Regions from separate parts of the Homo sapiens genome. Here region 2 is linked to region 1. The links come from fine-mapping of genetic effects on gene expression. A gene starts in region 1. The other region holds a variant in brackets. All regions are shown on one strand. Distances are between the middles of the regions.

Region 1 (2,915 bases):
TTCAAGTTTTGATCTGGGGAGCAGGATAGAAGAGGGACTTGAACTACTGATTCTTAGATTATGTGCATGTACATCTTTGATGAAAAAGAAAGCAAAACCAGACAAAATTATATGCATTGATTCGAGAAAGTAGTCACAATATAATGTTAAGTTAAATAACAGGATATAAAAGGTATATTCAGTATAGTCTCATTTTGTACATTAAATTGGAGGAGCTGATAGAAAAAATAAGAAGAAAATATTTCTAAGTGAAAAGATTAAGCATATATATATATTTTTTTGAGACACAATCGTGCTCTGTTGCCCAGGCTGGAGTGCAGTGGCATAATCATAGCTCATTATAACCTCAAACTCCTGGACTCAAGCGATTCTCCCACCTCAGCCTCCCCAGTAGCTAGGACTGTAGGCACATACCACCACACCTGACTAATTTTTTAATTTTTTGTAGAGGAGGGAGTCTCACTATGTTACCCAGGCTGGTCTGGAACTCCTGGTCTCAATCGGTCCTCCCGCTTTGGCCTCCCTAAGTGCTGGGATTGCAGGCGTGAGCCACTGCGCCTCTTCAGAACTAGGTGTAATTTAATTTTCTTCTTTATATTTTCTTAGATTTTCTAATTTTTATTTTCAAATTAACATTTATTAATTTGTAGCTAGAAAGGAAAACTTCTACAGATTGTAGAGACCAGGTTTTGCCATGTAGCCCAGGCTAGTCTTGCACTTCTGAGCTCAAGCCATCTGCTCACCTGTGCCTGTGGCTGCCAGCTCTGCAAAACCCTTCCTGAGATCAAGAAGGGGAAGCAACTTACCCAGGTTCACTCAGGCAGGTTTTGTGAATCCAAAACCATTGCTCTTTTATAGCTTCCTGTTTCTCCACTTGGGATTTCTTCCAGCTGAAAGCTTACTCATTATATGAAGGCTCAGAGCTCCCAGGTCAATGTCATCTTCTTCATGGAGCTGTGCCTGGAGATGACGCCCCCTTTCTCTGCTCCATTAAACCCGGTGTCTTTCCTGCTGTGTGTGCCAGCGGCTGTGTTGTGGTTGTGGGTGTGCTTGCTTTCGAGTCTTCGTTCTGCTATAAGCCCCTTGGAAGTAAGGACCACACCTTAGGTATTTCCATCTCTCCTTATGCAGCATCCAGGTGCATCACTCACGTGCAGGAGGGATTGGCTGAACACAGAGGCAGGTTAACTCAAGAATAAACTTTATTATTTGCTTTTAGGTGCTGTAGTGTGACGTGAAGCAGGTAGCTCATAATTGTGAAGATAAACTTGTGGAGTAGGTGGGTTTTGAGGTCCAGTAGGAAGATAGGCCCCACACAATGGTAGTTTGATTATTAATCAGCGTGGAGCAGGTGAATCAGCTGTTGCATTCCCCGGGAAGAACGCGGGCTCGGCCGGCCTGTGCTGGACTCTGGCGCCCCCAAATGGTCACGTGGGTTTATTACACATCGGAAGTAAACAGCTTTTACTGATGATGAAGTAGTGACTGTCTTGGTAGCTCTCTAGAAGCTCATTCGCCTTCTCTTTAAAGTTACACTTCACAGAGGCAGGATAATCCATCCGGTCAAGGAGAAAGGAAAATCGGATTAGGGCTTCCAATAAACCTGTAATATTTTAGGTGTACCGCTGAGTCATAAATATCAGCTAAGTCTGTTGTATCATCACCTGTACTTCTTTTTGCGCATCTTAAAATACCATTTAAAATAACGAAAAAAATCTACAACTTAGCTCTAGAGTATCATGCCTCCAAAAGACACTGGGTTTAATTTTTAGATGTTTTCCCTTTTTCGTTGGAGGTAAAAATAAAATTCAGGATTATGTTTTTCAGACCTATGTTTGTTTTCATACTTGTAAAACCTACATATGTATCCATAAACACACAGAGTATTGATTTGTGTTTCAATTTTAAAAAATTGATGTCACACTGTACCATTCTGAAGGTCTTTTTTGTTTGTTTGTTTGTTTTTTGAGATGGAGTCTCGCTCTGTTACCCAGGCTGGCGTGCAGTGGCGTGATCTTGGCTTACCGCAACCTCTGCCTCCCAGGTTCAAGCGATTCTCCTTCCTCAGCCTCCTGAGTAGCTGGGACTACAGGTGCGTGCCACCACATCTGGCGAATTTTTGTATTTTTAGTAGAAATGGGGTTTCACCATGTTGGCCCTGGCTGGTCTTGAACTCCCAACCTCAAGTAATCTGCCCACCTTGGCCTCCCAAAGTTCTGAGATGATAGGCACGAGCCACCACACCTGGCCATATCTTGCTTTTATTGATCAACATTGTGTTTAAGAATTATTCATGTTGGTACATATATTTCTAGTTGATTCACGTTTACCGCTGAAAAATTCCTCGTATAACTATGCACGTATATATATGTGTGTGTGTGTGTGTGTATCTATATATATATATATATATTTTTTTTTTTTTTTGAGACACAGGTTGTACTGTTGCCCAGGCTGGAATGCAATGGCACAATCTCTGCTCACTGCAACCTCCACCTCCCAGGTTCAAGCGATTCTCCTGCCTCAGCCTCCCGAGTAGCTGGGATTACAGGTGCCTGCCACCATGCCTGGCTAATTTTTTGTATTTTTACTAGAGATGGGGTTTCGCCATCTCTCACTTAACTAAGGTGATCTGCCCGTCGAAGTGCTGGGATTACAGGGGTGAGCCACTGCGCCTGGACTTTTTTTTTTAAATTCATTAAAATAATAGAAAAATAGAGACAGGGTCTTTGTGTTGCCCAGGCTGGTCTCAAATAGCTGAGCTCAAGCAGTCCTCCAGCCTTGGCCTCCCAAAGTGCTGGGATTACAGGTGTGAGCCACTGTGCCTGGTCTTTATGATATCTTTTTGTATTCCAAAGTCATAAGATAGTCATTTAATTTTGAAAATTATTTTAAAAATTTGCTTTTTACATTTAGAT
Region 2 (2,915 bases), 78 kb before region 1:
GGCCAACGCTCCATGTAAATGTGTATACACTTTATGCAGACAGGAAAGATTTCCTGCTTCCATGAGCATCCCCGCGAGTAACCAGATGAGAGGGATAACAATCCAAGAGATTTTCCAGAGTGCTCCCTGGACCTCCAGATTCCGGCATTTTCGATGCCCCTCAGGACTTCCATATTCGCTGTTCTCTCTGCCCGGATGCTCTTCCCTTAATCTCTCCTGGGCTGGCCTCTTCTCAGAATGGAGGGCTCAGCTGGAGAGTCAGCTCCTAGCAGCCTTCCCTGACCCCTCCGCAAAGGAGTTCATCTCCCCAAGACTCAGTCCCTCTCTATGCCATTACTGGTTTTGCTTTCTTGTAGTTAACACTATTTCCGTGGAATATACTGACCCTTTCCAGCCTCCACTGACTATAGTGTGAACTTTCTGAGAGTCATTGGGCCTTACTGTCATCATCACTGCCGTATCCCAGTACCTAGAAGGGTGTCTGGCACCTGGGGATGTTCAGTCATTATCTATTGGATGGGTGGATGGTACTTGGGTTTGGATGGAGTGAGGAAGAAGATGACTTGGAGAGACAAGTTGAGCCAAGAGGACGAGTTGGCCTTTTCTTTCTTCAGCTTTCCTCTTCACATATGCCCCTGAGGGGAGATCGCTGGAGAAAGAGGCAGCCCACTGTCCCTGTCCCTGGAAACACCTTCACCAACAATGGGCTGATATTCTCCCTACGCTGGGCCAGGCAGATGGAGTCTCCTTCAGCCGAGATGTTTCTGGGGCAGAAGATGCACCTCTGCCACCATCCTTTACTTAAACCGGAAGACTCCCAGCCCCTGTGAACAAGTCCGTCGGAAGTTCTCTGTCTGCATGGGGCTAGAACCCAGGGAACCCCAGGCTGGAAAAAGTGGGTGGGCCCACATGGCTTGCAGAACTTTAAAAGTAAGTGACACAGGTGGGAACAGGCTGAAGGAGCTAGGTTTCTGTTTTTTTTGTTTTGTTTTGTTTTGTTTGAGATAGTCTCGCTCTTGTCATACAGGCTGGAGTGCAGTGGCGCGATCTTGGCTCACTGCAACCTCTGCTTCCCGGGATCAAGCAATTCTCTTGCCTCAGCCTCCCAAGTAGCTGGGATTACATGTGCCTGCCACCCTACCCAGCTAATTTTTTGTATTTTTAGTAGAGATGGGGTTTCACCATGTTGGCCAGGGTGGTCTCGAACTCCTGACCTCAGGTGATCCACCTGCCTCGGCCTCCCAAAGTGCTGGGATTACAGGCGCGAGCCACTGCGCCTCGCCTTCTTTTTTTTTTTTTTGGATGGAGTCTTGCTCTTGTCGCCCAGGCTGGAGTGCAGTGGAGCAATTTCGGCTCACTGCAACCTCCACCTTCCGGGTTCAAGCTATTCTCCTGCCTCAGCCTCCTGCGTAGCTGTGATTACAGGTGCCTGCCACCACGCCCAGCTAATTTTTGTATTTTTAGTAGAGACGGGGTTTCACCATGTTGGCCAGGCTGGTCTCGAACTCCTGACCTCAGGTGATCCACCCTCCTCAGCCTCCCAAAGTGCTGGGATTACAGGTGTGAGCCACCGTGACCTGCCAGGGTACAAATTTTCTTTTTTTTTTTTTTTTAGACGGAGTCTC[G/A]CTCTGTCGCCCAGGCTGGAGTGCAGTGGCACGATCTCGGCTCACTGCAACCTCTGCCCCTCCAGGTTTAAGCAATTCTCTGCCTCAGCCTCTGGAGTAGCTGGGATTACAGGCATGCGCCACCACGCCTGGATAATTTTTTTGTATTTTTAGTAGAGACGGGGTTTCACCATCTTGGCCAGGCTGGTCTTGAACTCCTGACCTCGTGATCCACCCGCCTTGGCCTCCCAAAGTGCTGGGATTACAGGCGTGTGCCACTGCGCCTGGCCATGGATACATATTTTCTAACTCATTCTCCTGGTTTCAGCGTTTTGTGTTTTTGGGTGTTAGGCTTGCTAGAATTGTAACCTTTGCCTTCCTGGAACAGAAAGCTCCAACTTTGTGTGTAATTTTACTGAAGTGGACCCACTCCTCAGAAAACAAAAAGAGAAAAACCCCAGGGGAATTAGGATACACACATATTGCAAAAGCCTCTGTGGTCAAGTGTGCGGGATTTCCAGAGGAAATGAAAGTCAGGACCAGCAAGAATATCAGACCAGCTGGCCAGAGCCCACCTCCATGGCTAGTCTTGCCCTGCAGCCAAGAACAAGCTTACTTCCTCTGAGTCAGCTCATAAGCCCTCCTTGGACCACAACCCTGGGCTGCATGTCAGTGCCACTGCCATGGTGGGTCCCCTGAGAGTCTAGGAGGCCTTAGAAAGATTCCGAGGCCTGGCCATGCATGGATTTTGCTCTTAAAAAATGTCTCTCAGCTGGGCGCAGTGGCTCACACCTGTAATCCCAGCACTTTGGGAGGCCAAGGCAGGCAGATCACAAGGCCAGGAGATCGAGACCAGCCTGGCGAACGTGGTGAAACCCTATCTCTACTAAAAATACAAAAATTAGCTGGGCATGGTGGTAGCATGTGCCTGTAGTCCCAGCCACTCGGGAGGTTGAGGCAGGAGAATCGCTTGAACCTGGGAAGCGGAGGTTACAGTGAGCCGAGATCGTGCCACTGCACTCCAGCCTGGCAACAGAGCGAGACTCCGTCTCAAAACAAACAAACAAAAAAATGTCTCTCTCCTCTCTTTCAAATGAGCAGCTGCCCGAGAACCCACAGGAATGGATGGAAGGATAGAAAAAGGCAGAAAAGACACCCGCGGGACACTTTGGAAGCCAGTGCCATCTCTCTGTTCTCTAACAGTGCTAAGAAAGGATGGGCCTGTGGGTAATCATTCTGATCAAAAGCCAAGGCAGCAGCTGGACTGTGCCTCCAAACTGTTCTGGAGGAAGAAAATATGCAAAGAAAGAT

Which allele goes with the higher level. Alleles are on the strand shown, and positions count from the first base shown. SD is a standard deviation of normalised expression in the study named.
As copies of G replace A in region 2, the expression in monocytes after R848 of the gene that starts at base 1,515 in region 1 goes up (large effect, 0.84 SD a copy in Quach 2016).

What was found. PIP is the estimated chance that this variant, and not a neighbour inherited with it, causes the effect.
Region 2: its variant is the best candidate, but not a certain one, in a credible set for the expression of LINC02733 in monocytes after R848 (Quach 2016, PIP 0.55).

The regions. Positions count from the first base shown.
Region 1 is chr11:62,080,808-62,083,722 of GRCh38, forward strand. It overlaps LINC02733 (long intergenic non-protein coding RNA 2733), which reads right to left and starts at 1,515. Exons shown (of 3, transcript NR_183616.1): 1 at 807-1,515.
Region 2 is chr11:62,002,543-62,005,457 of GRCh38, forward strand. No RefSeq gene overlaps it. Among named protein-coding and RNA genes, the nearest start is that of FTH1, 36 kb to the left of the region's middle. The variant G/A (reference allele first, on the strand shown) is at 1,626.